2 linked regions of the Homo sapiens genome follow. The protein of the gene in region 1 binds, or shares a complex with, the protein of each later gene. Each region holds a gene or a part of one and is shown in the gene's direction. Other genes may lie near its edges.

Evidence for each region.
Region 2: NUP54 (region 1) and NUP93 share a complex: the UniProt entries of both Homo sapiens proteins name them as parts of the p62 complex.

The regions. Positions count from the first base shown.
Region 1 is NC_000004.12:76,145,371-76,152,703, reverse strand, and holds the start of NUP54 (nucleoporin p54), read left to right. Parts: upstream 1-4,306; 5' UTR 4,307-4,329; coding exon 4,330-4,396; exon of another isoform or gene 4,397-7,149; intron 7,150-7,333. UniProt on the Homo sapiens protein: Component of the nuclear pore complex, a complex required for the trafficking across the nuclear membrane.
Region 2 is NC_000016.10:56,838,129-56,845,128, forward strand, and holds part of NUP93 (nuclear pore complex protein Nup93), read left to right. Parts: intron 1-823; coding exon 824-941; intron 942-1,392; coding exon 1,393-1,476; intron 1,477-3,576; coding exon 3,577-3,705; intron 3,706-6,370; coding exon 6,371-6,481; 3' UTR 6,482-7,000. UniProt on the Homo sapiens protein: Plays a role in the nuclear pore complex (NPC) assembly and/or maintenance. May anchor nucleoporins, but not NUP153 and TPR, to the NPC. During renal development, regulates podocyte migration and proliferation through SMAD4 signaling.

The DNA.
Region 1 (7,333 bases):
CAGCATTGGCTCCATCTTGGTGGCAAACATCCTCTAGTAACTAACTGCCTAAGAAATAGGAGGTATTTTGTTTTTTAATAGTTTTTTTTTTGTCTAAAAATGCTATTATTCTCCCTTCATAGTTGATCTATAAGTTGGCTGGGAATAGAATTGTAGCTGGAAATAATTTGTATTCAGAAATTCAAAGGCATTTCTCAACTGCCTTCTAGCTAGTGTTACCATTGAGAAGTCTGATGCCATTTTGATTCTTGTTTTTGTGTGTGTGACCTCTTTTACTCTCTGGAAACTTCTTTGCCATCATGGTTCTGTTATTTTGGAATGTGCCTTAGTGTGAGTCTATTTTGATTAATTGTAATGAGCATTTGGTGAACCATTTTCAACCCAGCAGTGTCTTTCAATTATGATAAATTTTCTTGAATTATTTAATAATTTCCTCAGCTGTGCTGCCTTCTTGAACAGTCACAAGTATACTATTTTTTTTTTCTTTATTTTTGAGACAATGTTTCACTCCGTCACCCAGGCTGGAGTGCAGTGGCATGATGGCTGCTCACTGCAGCGTCAACCTCTGGGGCTATTGGCGTGTGCCACACCTGGCTAATTTGGTCTATTTTTTTTTTTTTTTGTAGAGATGGGGTCTCCCTATATTACCCAGGCTGGTCTCAATCTCCCCAGCTCAGTGACTCTGCCGCCTTGGTCCCCCAAAGTGCTGGGATTACAAGTATGAGCCACTGCACTTGGCCCACAAGTGTACTATTAACTCAATATCTGGTTTTCCCTCACTCAACTGTAAGTTCTCAAAGGCACAAACCATACCTTTTTTGTTTAGCACTCAGAATAGTACCAAGTACATAGTAGGACTCAATAAACTCTGAATGAACGAATAATAGGAAGAGACCAAATCTTGAAGGACTTTAAAGGACAGATTTTTCTCTATACTCTTTCTGAAATTATTGTATTAGTGTGCATGATATAACAGTGTGTGTGATAGAGGGCTTTTTGAACTAGTCCTCTAGTTTTAGTTTCTCCTCAATTTTCCATCCTTGGTCTTTTTGTTTTTCTTTCTGAGAGATTTCTTCACCTTTATCTTCCGACACTTCTACTGGGTTTTTCATTTCTGGTAATAGCTTTAAAATTCCAATAGCTCTCTTTTGTTCTGCTAAGAATACCTTTCTTTGAAAATAATAACATCCTGATATTATTTCATGGTTACAATATCTCTTCCTATCTCTCTGCGGATATGTTCACTTTTTAAAAGTTTTATTCTCCTTGCAGTTAGTTTCCTCCAAGCTGCTTTTGCTGCTCTATTTGTTTTGACCTCTATACATTGTGTTAAAGGCTCTCCTCAGCTTGGTAATCCTTGCTGGTCTACTCATATATAAGAGTGGGACTTAAAAGCTGAATGGAAGTTCTGAGTGCCTTAGTGAGGCTTGCAAAGTGTGAGCTTTATTATAAAGCAGGATTTCTCAAACTCTGTAATAGTGGTATTTGGGGCCAGGTAATTTTTTGTTTGGGTAGGAAGGGAGTCTGTCCTAGAGTATTTTGCAGCATCTTCAACTTCTACTCAATAGATGCCTGTAAGATCTTCCCAATTGCAACCACCAAAACTGTCTGTAGACACTGCCAGATGTGCCAGGGGATGGGAGAAGTAGAAAATTGGCACCAGTTGAGAACCACTGCTATAATGTCATGTGGCTAAATCATTTATTTAGAGATTTCTGATGTCAGATGATTGTCTTTTCTTTGATACTGGTCATTTCACCCATAAAAAATTCTCCTATATCTTCCTGGAGGGCGAAGGCCTGGCTGCCAATGTTCTGGGAGCAGTAGGGGAAGGTGTGTATAGGCATGCATTTCCACTCAGTCTTCCACCATTCAGTAGGGCACTACCCACTCTCAATAATGTCTGGTGCCCCCAAGTCCAGAGACACTACTATTTTTTTTTTTTTTACACTGACGGGGGGTGGGGGGGAGTCCCCACTGTGTTGCCCAGGCTGGCTGAACTCCTAGGCTCAAGCAATCCTCCCACATCAGCTTTCCGAGTAGATGGGACTATAGGCTGGTGCCACTGTGCCTGGCAAATACTATTTTAATCACTGTAGAGAAGAATCCTCCATTATTTTTCTAGAGTGGGGAAGAAGCATTCACTTGGCTGCACGAGGTCAGAAGAGGATTTGGGGAGCTCTAACTGCTTCTTAAATAGACTTTCAACCAGTTCCTCTCATTTTAACTTCCCTTTACCCCAACTTATGAAGATACGTGATATCTCCAATTCCTGAGCTTCTGGCAGATTCCATAAATTAATCATTGGTTTTCCTTTCTGCTAGACTGGGAGGGCTGTTTGTTTTTTTAAGGTAAGCTGAGTACTTAGCCATTAGACAATGTGCTAAATCAGGGGTGTCCAATCTTTTGGCTTCCCTGGGCCACGCTGGAAGAAGAAGAATGGTTGTTTGTTTTTTTAAGGTAAGCTAAGTACTTAAGCGTTAGGCTATGTGCTAAATCAGGGGTGTCCAATCTTTTGGCTTCCTTGGGCCACACTGGAAGAAGAAGAATTGTCTTGGGCCACACATAAAATACACTAACAATAGCTGATGAGCTTTAAAAAAAATCGCAAAAAACCTCACAATGTTTCAATAAAGTTTACGAATTTGTGTTGGGCTGCATTCAAAGCCATCCTAAGCCATGAGCCACATGTGGCCTGTGGGCCGCAGCTGGACAAACTGCTGGTAAATCAAAGCTCCTTAACATGCTAAGGAAGGTCTTTCAAGATCTGGTTTCCACCTATCTGTCATTCATTCATTATTTATTTCCCCCTGTTATATGCCAGGCACTTGTGATGGGCATGGAACAAGAGGGACATGGTTCTTGCACTTATGGAATATATACTATTGTAAGGAAAAATTAGATTGATAAATTATCTGTGACAAACAGTGAAAGAAGGCAGGGCAGTGGGTATGAGAGCATACTCAGTTTGTAGGAGTCAGACACGGGTCCACCATTCACCAACTTGCCCAAGCCAGAAAGCAGGAGGTTGTCCTTGAATCCTTACTTCCCACGTCCAAATACTACGAGTCTCATATATGCTATTTCTTAAGTATCTCTCAAATTTATTCTCCTAATTCCACTGCCAGATGTAATCCAAGTCATTATCATCTCCTACCTGTGCAACTACAACAGACTCCTAAAAGCTCTATCTTCCTCAGGCATTCTGGCTCCTTCCAATCCATTCTCCTTATGGCAGCCAGAGGGATCTTCTAAAAACAAAATTCTAGTCATACTAGTCCTCTGCCTAAAACCCCTTAAAGGTTTCCCATTACCCTCAAGAAATAGTCTGAAATCCTTACCATAATTTACAAGGCAATATAATATAATGGTAATTTTTACAAATTGGGACTCTGGAGTGGAGAAACATGAGTCCAAAACCAGACTCCAGAACCTACCTGCAAGGTGACTTTGGGCAAGCTGCTTAACAACTCCAAACCTCAATTCTCTCATCTCACCTGCAAAATACAGTTACAGAATCTTCTCTATTTATTTATTCTGAGGATTAAATTATATTACAAGTACAACAGAGGGGGCCCACTCTTCCCCTCTTTTTCAGTGCTCCCCTTAGAGCTGTGGTTAGGAGTATTTACTCTGTAAACAGCCTGACCCTTTGGTACCTGTTTCCTCTTTTATAAATTGGAGATAGCAGCAACCCACCTCATAAGATAGCTGATTAAATTATGTAAAATGTCTAGAAGAGTGCCTGGCACATAGTAAACGCAACGTGTTTGCTACAATTCCATTCGCTTTCATTTCTTCCAACGTGCATCCTCTTTACTGCTTCTGCTCCGTCTACTCATCCTTCAGCACTGGGTTCAAATACCACCTCCTCGTGGGTGTTGGGGGGGTTCTCAACCCCAGCCCTGCTGCCCGACCTCCCAGGCCCGCTAGTTGATGAGGCAGCAACTTCAACCCTACCACATACAAATTCTAGCTGTCTACCGCGTATCCCTACAGTAACAACTTCAGCCTCTGCACACCTTTCCCAAAGAACCTCCCTACGGCAGTTTTTAAAGGACTCTCAGGCGGCACACCCTCGCGAGCGTCCCAGCATTTTACCTTAACAGTGACACCCCACAGCATGTGAAGCCCACCGGAAGTGAGCTGGCTGGGGGCGTTCCCTCACAACCACCCACCTCCTACGCCCTTGGCGCCTTCCGGCCTCTTAGGCTAGGTCAGAAAGGAGGCGGAACTCGGTGATCTGACTGGCGGTTTCCCGGCCGGACTGAGAAGGGGAGCGCGCTGCGCGTCGCAGGAGTAACCTACTTGGTCTCCTGCTTTCGCGACATGGCCTTCAATTTTGGGGCTCCCTCGGGCACCTCCGGTACCGCTGCAGCCACCGCGGCCCCCGCGGGTGAGTGATCCCCCTAGACCTTCACCCGGGAAGAAGGGGAAGGGTCTGGTCCGCCCCCTCTGTCCGAGACTCTCCGACCTGGGGATCCTGGAATCTCCCGCCGACGCGGAGACTTTAGAGGCATTGGAAAAGGGCGGGCGGCGGCAGAGTGGGCCGAGGCGGCACCCGAGGAGGCCACGGGGGTACTCGGGGTCCCACTAGAAGCTCGCTTGCCGCGCGTGAGTTTCCACAGGGCCCTGGCTTGAGCGGTTCGCTTCCCGCTGCCGGGGAGTCCTACTCAGAGAAATTGGAGGTTGCTTCCCTCTCCCCTTGCCCGAGAACCTCCCTCCCCTCTGCACCTCAGCCTCCTGGATGGGCGGGAACGCTTGCGTGGTTCCCGCTGCCGGACTCGGCGAGGATAGGGCTGGGGATCCACCGGCACTGCCCATTGACTCCCTTAGTTCCACCCCCGGCCCCCTGTGGTCCTCGCTGTGGGGTTTATCCGTCATGCTTCTTCCATCTGCCCCACCCCACCCCCACTCTGCTTTCTTAAACTGTTTGGAGCAAAACCAGGTTTGTTCACTTCTGTGAAACCTCCTGCTGATTCTTCTAATCCTTATCTTGCTTTCTTTTCTTTTTCCCTCTCCCCCTTTTTAAAATTTTGTTTCTTTGCCTACACGCCTATCAGGATTTGGTGGGCTTGAGACTGCCAACTCCACCGCCAGTGGGTTTAATTTTGGGGGTTTCGGATTAACTGCTAATCCTGCAGTGAACTTTAATATTGGGAATTTCGGTGTTTCTACTACCTCGGCGACTCCGTTCAATTTTGGTAACAGTCTGGCAAGTGCAGGTAGATACTGCGGGTTGTATGTGTAACCAGTGTTGGGAGCTGGAGTCCAAGAATATTGTGGTTCCTGGAGTTTGGGAAAGAACAGTTACTTGTCTAATAGGGAAAGGAAATTTATTTCCTTATCTCGAATCAAAAACATCTGTATCAAGTTTTTACTGCCTTAAAAGATGTGGTTTAGGAAAGTTTTGCAAGTTACAGTGTTCCTTTATTAAATGTGCACTTATCTTCCAAATGATAAGCATTTGGATTATAATTTTGAATAGATCTTTAAAATTATTAGGTAGGACTTCCAAAGTATAAACTCACCACCAGTCAAGCCCATCCTGGGATTCTTGGACTCCTGCAGTCATTTTTCATTTTTTCTGCATCTTTCATTGAGATTTCATTTTATTGTCCTTGTGTTTCCAAAGAGAAACAAGTCTTATACGAACAGCAGTAACCTGTTTTGTTTTTTAACTTGTGTTATAATGATAATAATGTATTTCTTTGGTCAACTCAGCAGATTAGGATACTATAAGATGTGTAATTTCTATAAGATTTGTAATTATAGAAAGAATCCCCAGTTCTTTGCTGGAATTTTGGGAAATGCTCAAAGAGAGCAGTTTAGTTTTATGTGATATAGCATCGAATTCTAAAAGGTAAGCTAGACGTCTTTGCATTCAAAAAGATAATTATGAAGATTTTCATATGCACGTGGGTTGTTTGCAGCTCATTAGAAATTTTGCAAAACAATAATGATATATACATTTAAAATAGGTTTATGGGTACTTTACATAGTGACACTGTAGAAAAAAACTTGTTCTTCAGCTGCTCGTATATGAATTTATCGTCCATAGTCTCTTACGTTATGCCTCTTGTGCCCATGCCAATTATATGCATTTGATAAACATTATTTACTCCCTAAAAGTTAATTGGGAAGTTTGTTATTTTGTTCATTCACTGGTTACTGCAATGTGATTATCACCCTAGCATCTGAGTTGAAAACAGTTCGAAGAATATTTGAAAACTTCAAAGACAAGATGATGCATTTTAATTAAGATGTATTCGAAGTAATCACATATCACTGTCCTTTGATGTGTTTACTTTTCCTTGTTTGCTTAAAATTGGCACTGGGTAAAACAGAAATCTTACTTTGAAATTTGTGTTTCTGAATAAAGCCACCCAGCTCATAATTCAACAACAATAAATAAACTTGTTGGTATTTGCTTGATTTCATGTTCATTTGGAGTTATCACTGTTAAGTTTTGAGTTATGATAATGTAATATGTTTTAACTACTTTTATATGTGTTAACCTTCAGCAAAGGGCTGATAGACTTTCTTGTTTACTTTTTATTTTGTATACTTGCAGATCTGCTATTACTAAAACATTTTTGATGTTGTGGAGCATGATGAGAAACTGACTAGTGTTTCTATTGCGTAGCCAATTCAGATTATATCATAGTTATTCTATGGAAGTGAAGAATAATGAAAAGAAATTACAACAGTGCTTAGTACTGTGGGTGACTTTTATGAAAATGTTTATAGTTTGCAGTACTGCAGTAGAACCTACAAGTAAATAGAATATTTAGTTGTGCCTGCATGCAACATGCAGCTTACTCTTGAGTAGTTTTCCAAATCAGAATGAGGTGATTAATATAAAATGGTTGCATGTTTTTCTTCTTGTATTTTCTATATTGCAATATTGATGAATCTGTGTTGTATACCAGAAATAAATGAGATTAAAGGAAGATTCCAAAAAATCTGCAATATAATTCGACACTAATGGTTCAAACATTTGTCTTGAAAGGCTTTTTGATACCACATTGGTAATCAGCTGAAGACTGACAATAAGTTACAAAAATAACAAAACAATTTTAGATTGGCTAGCATTCCATTTATCTGTCAAATCTCTTCCTTCAAGAAACACATTCTTGTTGTTTGGAGGTAAGTATATTGGTATGCTTCCTTTGAAAAGTTACTTAGTCTTGACAGAGACTAAGTAGAAATATAAGTTAATTTAGACATAAATTAATTCACCAAAACCAAGGTTGCTAACTGGCAACAAGTCTGCCAATGTGATATGTTTGGCATGCTGTTTTCAAAACATTTGAATTCCTTGCAAAAAAAA
Region 2 (7,000 bases), on another chromosome or scaffold:
CTGGATCCCCAGTGAGTTAACTGAATTATCAGACTTCTAACTAGTTTAAGTCCCAGGCTGAAGCTAACAACATTACTTTTTGCGCTCTCTGTAGATATTCCTAGTAAAATGACCCAGAGAAAACTGGGTTTGGGGTGCCTTCCCGGGGTAACAAAAAAGAACATTCTTTGGTAAATGAGATATCTCCACCTAGCAAACAATCCCCAGTGAGGGCTGCTCGGCTTTTTGCCCATCACGACCTCCCACCTTTCATGAAGATTGGATGCTGAGATGATGATCAAGGCTGGAGAACCATGCTTCATGTGGTGGAGTACCTGTAGGTGGATTCATACCAAATCCACTATCAGTGCTTGGCTGTTTCAAAATAAACACCATTTTACACTCTTTAATTAACTTCACCCAGAGAGCTCAGAAGGTTTTGATGCTTTTTATACATTTTTTTTGTATGTTAAGACAGGGTCTCCCTGTATCACCCAGGCTGGAGTGGAGTGCAGTAGTGCAGTCATAGCTCACTGTAACCTTGAACTCCTGGGCTCAAGCAATCCTCCCACCTCAGCCTCCTGAGTAACTAGGACTACAGGCATGTACCACCACACTCAGTTAATATTTTAATATTTTGTGGAGATGGGGTCTCGCTGTGTGTCCAGGCTGGTCACTGACTCCTGGCCTCAAGCAATCCTTCCGCCCCAGCCTCCCATGTAGCTGAGATTACAGGCATGAGCGACCACACCCCACTGTTTTTTTAAATGCTATTCCACTGTTACGGATTACACAGAAATTCCTGATACACTCTTACTACCCCCACCCCGTTTTTGTCTTTCAGGTATAGGGCTCAAGGAATAAGCGCAAATAAATTTGTGGACTCCACGTTCTATCTTCTTTTGGACTTGATCACCTTTTTTGACGAGTATCATAGTGGTCATATTGATAGAGCTTTTGATGTAAGTTTCAGGAAAGGTGTTTGAAGTGCAGGTTAATGTACACCCTCGAAAATTCAAAACACTTCATGGAATTTACTTAAAACAAAGGAGCTGTTGCCAGTATGTTTGTTGTATAAAGAAAGACAAGTACAATCCTGGGACTTAAAAGGAGTTTCCTGTGTGGCTTTTTTTTTTTTTTTTTTTTTTTTTTTGCCTATTCCTTTCCCCTTTAATCTGAAAACAGAGAAGTTTCTCAAAGTAATTTGCAATCTCAGAATTTTAAAAATTGTGTCAGGAAATGATGATAAGAATTAAGTTAGCTAGTTAGAATCAAAGCCTTTGTGTGTACAAGGAGGAATGGCGTTTTCTATGAAGAAGCCCTTTGGAGTATGTGAGGTGCTGACTTTACATGTAGAGAGATGAAATGACTGTGATGGTTGTGTTACATGGGGCCGGTGGTTGTTTTAAACAGATCATTGAGCGCTTGAAGCTGGTGCCCCTGAATCAGGAAAGTGTGGAAGAGAGAGTGGCTGCCTTCAGAAATTTCAGTGATGAAGTAAGTTCCTTCTTCCTGAGTTGTGGAATTCCTTTTTCCCCACTTCCACCAAAAGCTTTTTCTTTTCCTGTACCTAACAGCTTTAAGAATTCTAGTTACAGTAACTATCCAGACTGAGTTTTCCAGAGTGGTTCCCTTTCAGATACCTTGGCCTGGCTTTTCTGTGAGTGCATACATCCCCATCAGATTATTGTCTGAATTCCTAATTGAGAAAATACAGTCACTTCAGTGATTGACATGTTCTTGGGAGAAACAGGTTTCTGGTTGATCTGTGAAGTCTGGTTTAATTCTTCTATTATCCGCTTGTGCTAGAGGGTATTTTAGTGCTTAACTCTGATCATCTTTAAGTAGTTCCATTGGGTACGTGAAACACATCATGATTCACTGCCACCTTTGCCCTCCCTTATCTGTTTTGGGATTTTTTTGTTTTTGAAACGGAGGAGTCTCACTCTGTCACCCAGGCTGGAGTGCAGTGGTGTGATCTTGGCTCACTGCAAGCTCTACCTCCCGGGTTCACACCATTCTCCTGCCTCAGCCTCACGAGTAGCTGGGACTACAGGTGCCCGCCAACACGCCCAGCTAATTTTTTGTATATTTAGTAGAGATGGGGTTTCACCGTGTTAGCCAGGATGGTCTCGATCTTCTGACCTCGTGATCTGCCCGCCTCGGCCTCCCAAAATGCTGGGATTACAGGCGTGAGCCACCGTGCCCAGCCAATCCATTTTGTCTAAAGACGCAAGTGCAGTGACCGCGGAGTAAGCTATCACCCCATAAGCCCCAGAGCCACTGTCTGTTGGGTTTCTAGCATATTGCCAGCATCTAGCCTAGGGTGCTCAGCTGGGCTGCATACTGGCATCTCTAGAAAAGTTTCTAAAAACCCTCATGCCTACACCCCAGAGATTCTGTTTTCCCTGATTGCTGCAGCCCAGACCTCCCCCAGTCATTCCAGTGTGTGGCCCAGGTAAATTCTTCTCTAGAACTATAAACACTCAACTCAGCTGTCGACACTATAGACTCTAGAACCAGCTGCCTGGCTCTGGGATGTCACTAGTGGTCTTTCAGTTTACAATTCTTCCTCATTGAGCAGATGCCTTTTATAAAATGTCTCCAGCCAGGTGCGGTGGCTCACACCTATAATCCCAACATTTTGGGAGGCTGAGGCGGACTGATCACCTGAGGTCAGGAGTTCGAGACCAGCCTGGCCAACATGGTAAAATCCCATCTCTACTAAAAAATACAAAAATTAGCCGGGCGTGGTGACGCATACCTGTAGTCCCAGCTATTCCAGAGGCTGAGGCACGAGAATCGCTTGAACCCGGGAAGCAAAGGTTGCAGTGAGCCGAGATTGCGCCACTTCACTCCAGCCTGGGCGATAGAGGGAGACTTTGTCTCAAAAAAAAAAAAAAAAAGTTTCTATTTTAGAGAAAGAAGTAAGGCCAGTTCTGCACATGAAGAGGGATGTTGACTGCTGTGGTACACACAGTTCAGAAGGTCTTGCCCCTTGCTGACCTTCCCTTTATACCTGCTGTGGCTTCTACCCTTAGCCACTTGCTCCTTTGTTATTTCTGGCCTTTCCTTGAATGCATCCTTCATTGCATCAGGGATTAAAGTGGTACACGAGGGCCTGGCCTTATAGACACTCCCAAGGACTCTGGTAGGGTCATGCAGATCTAGTGGAAACAGCCCGGTGAGTTTGAGAGAGTGAGGAGTGGTAGGGACTGTGGAGAAGTAGCGTGTGCACCTGTACCTCCTGACATTCAAGTTCAAATTATTTAATGGCAGCCACTCTGCTGGCCAGTCTAAGCCTAATGCTAACCAGATGTCAGCATGCTTTTGGCTCACTGCCCCTGACTAAGGGAAAAACAGCATAAAGGAGCAGGAACAGTAACCACCTGACCTGAGCAGCATTGCTTGGGTTTTTTTCTCACACTTGATGTTTCAGTGCCATCAGCTCCTTTTGGGTGACTGTGTGGCTCTCCACCTGGCAATGGTGAGGAGTGGTGCAACCAGGCCTGCCTGGAGCAGCCCACCCTCCCTCCATCTGTGGTTGGCCCCAAAGGCTTGGTTCTTTTTCTTTACTCTGTTTTTCTCTCTATGTAGATCAGGCACAACCTCTCAGAAGTGCTTCTTGCCACCATGAACATCTTGTTCACACAGTTTAAGAGGCTCAAGGGGACAAGTCCATCCTCGTCATCCAGGCCCCAGCGAGTCATCGAGGACCGCGACTCTGTAAGATCCCAGCATTCGCGAGAAACATTGCTAAGCACCACCTTTCTGGTTTGGAATCCGTTGCGCTCTTATGAGACCACATGACCCAAAACTGCTCTTTCTCCTCAGTACCTGGCAGCTGGATAAATCTCGTGTTAGGAGGCTCCCAGAGGAAATCAAATATTAAAGGGATTGCTGCTCTTCTCAAGCTTAAAAAAATAAAAAGATGTACTAGGTCTGCAAATCTTACCTTTTAACAAATCAAACAGAATGCTAATTTCTAGTTGACTCCATAAGAACTTCCTGCACATTTTAAAAGATAAGTTTATTTTGTTAGTCCTAGCTCATTAGTGAACACTTTTATTAAAACCATACTTTATTTTTGATCAACACATTAATGTGAACCCTTGTTTCTCCTGTCACCTGTGTTCACAGTGACCCTAGAGAGGTAACTAGGACAGCATCTTATCCCCTCTCACAGCTGAGGAAACTGAGCTGTGGAGTTGGGAAGCAACTGCCCTCAGGTGGCAGGTAGGTGAAGGGGCCATGTCTGGAGGCTGGGTCTCTCTGACACCTGTGCCCTTTCTGCTGCCTGTGGGACCTCCAGCAGTGCATGGGTCAAGTGGAGTCCAGGTAGCTAGAACCCTGGGGCTCACAGCATATGTTGTCTGATTACAAAAAAAAAGAGCAAAGGTATTTTTTGACCCAGTTAAACCATAAGGGGACAGTCCAATGGTGTTTGCTTTTTTTTTTTTTTTGAGGCAGGGCCTGGCTCTGTTGCCCAGGCTGGAATGCAATGACACGATCTCAGCTCACTGCAACCTCTACCTCTTGGGCTCAAGCCACCCTCCCACCTCACCCTCCCAAGTAGCTGGGACTACAGGTACGCACCACCACACCCAGCGGAGTTTTGTACTTTATATAGAGATGGAATTTTACCATGTTGCCCAGACTGGTCTCGAACTCCTGAGCTCAAGAGATCCCCCAACCTCGGCCTCCCAAAGTGCTAGGATTACAGATGTGAGCCACCGTTCCCGGCCCCACAATAGTGTTTTTTAAAATTACCTTTCCTTTAACCTTTCCACTTAATTTTTGATGAGACTCTCAGCATCTCAGTGTCTAACATCAGACCTGGTTTTGGCAGCCAAGAAGCCTTGATCTGTCTTCTGCCTCCAAGATGTCTGTGAGCTCTTTCCACTGTGACCCCACAGGCATGGTTGTTGACAAAACTTGTGCTTAGTGAAAGATGGCGGAAATTTCCACCTTTAGGAATGTGGGTAACAGTGCTCAAGAGTGGTCCACTGAAGCGGTCAGCCCATCCAGGTGTGCACCAGAGCATTTGCTGGTCTTCTGCCTACCCCGGACAGATAGGAGTCTAAATGTCAGATGTGCCAGCGGTGGGTTCATGGTGCCCACCATTTGGCAGGAATCTTTTTTGATGATAGAAACCCAGGGCAGTGATGTTTGTGAATGTGAGTATTGAGATGGTGGATACTTCTTGGTGCTCTGTGTGCTGCTTACAGTTCAGTGGGGCTTGCCCACTGAGAAGAGCTGGTCCCCTGGCAGGCCATGTCTCATGTCTGAAGATCATTCTCCTGCCTTCCTTTTGCCCACCACTCTCCTTTTTCTTTCTTTTTCTGAAAGGTAGGGAGGGATAGGATTAAGTAAAAGGTTATCTATAAAAGCTGCGTGCCCAAGAAGTCTGCAAGCCCACTGACGTCCTTGGTTTCATGGTTTAAAGTGAGATGCTGCCTAGTAAAGGGGTGAATCCTTTTACTTGAACATCCCTAGAGCTCATTTAACGAGAGCCCTTTTATTCACTTCTAAAGAAAATACAGTGGATATTCACATCACAAAGTCAGATTTCTTTTTGTTTGGACATCAATAAGGACATACACTCGCTAGTTTGTTTTACACATCAGGTAAAAAGCATTTGCTTTTCCGTTTTCTTCTGGAATGGTCCTTAAGTAAGCCTAGTAGATGACTCCTCAGTGTTTCTTTAAATTCTTGTTACTAGTCCAGAAAGGTGTTGGTGGTAGATTTCTCCCTTTCTAGTCCAGATTTGGTTTAAATTTGTAGGGCCACCTTTTTCCATCCTGAACAATCCAGGAATTCCATAAATACTGTTGCCTGGGGAAAGAAGGGCTAAGCATGTATGTCGGGAAGGGAGAAACAGGAGGAATGAAAGGAAGGAAGAGGAAAGATGCATGGGAGGAAGAGAGCTGGATTGGGACTGCACAGTCACAGCCCTTGCCTCCGGTGTCACAAGGGCTTCATGGGGCTCTGGAGAGTCAGATCCCTGTGAAAGCAGATGGACAGAAACCAGCCAGAGAGAGAGGCTCAGAAGATTGGAGCAGGCAGTTCTGAAGCTCAGGGCTGTGTCAAAAGCTAGCCAAATGTGTTGGGGCGAGGCGGCTTGCCTGGCAAACCCATCTGCTTTTTGCTTAATAGATGGGTTTGGATGCCTGTGGAACAGAGGCCTCGGGGGACGAGCTTTGTTAACTTTGTGTTATGTTGAAGGAATGTGACAGAGGAGGGTATGACTGTCATCCACCCATCAGGGATCTGTCCCTGACACGCTGGGGTAGAGGATGGAAGAACATGGAATAGAGGATGGAAGAATATGGAATAGTGCCCTGACTCGAAAGTTAACCGATTTCCTTCCCTTCCTTCCCTTCTCTCTCAGCAACTCCGAAGTCAAGCCCGCACTCTGATTACCTTTGCTGGAATGATACCATACCGAACGTCTGGGGACACCAATGCGAGGCTGGTGCAGATGGAGGTCCTCATGAATTAAGTGCCATGCTTTGTGGGAGTCTGGGTCGGCACACTGTCAGTACATCAGGCACATGGGCCCACTAGGCTGGGGTTTCTGGTTTTGTTTCTGTTGTGTTTTGTTTTGGTTTCTGTATTATGTATTTTTGTCAACGCCAATAAATTTCTTTGATTTGTATTTCTTTTCAACATTCTTTTATTTTCTTTTTTTTTTTCTTTGAAATTTTGTTTACATTTTTATTTGTGTAATGGGAAATACCGTCACTAGCTCTTGGGCCAGGGAATGAGAGGCTATGTAGATATTCATTATTTGGTTAAATTGACCTTAATTAATTAAAAATCTACCCAAAATGAGCCAGGAAACAAAGCCTTTGGGAGTTACTTTTATTTAGATATAATATTCCATATAGCAGAGTCACGATTCATTTTCACATTTTTATTTGAATGTGAAAGTCAACCTCAGCCTTAGAAGATGTAAGATTTGTGTGTGAAATATCAAGCACTCCATGTCCTCCTCTAGAGAGTGTGACTTAAGTCCAGA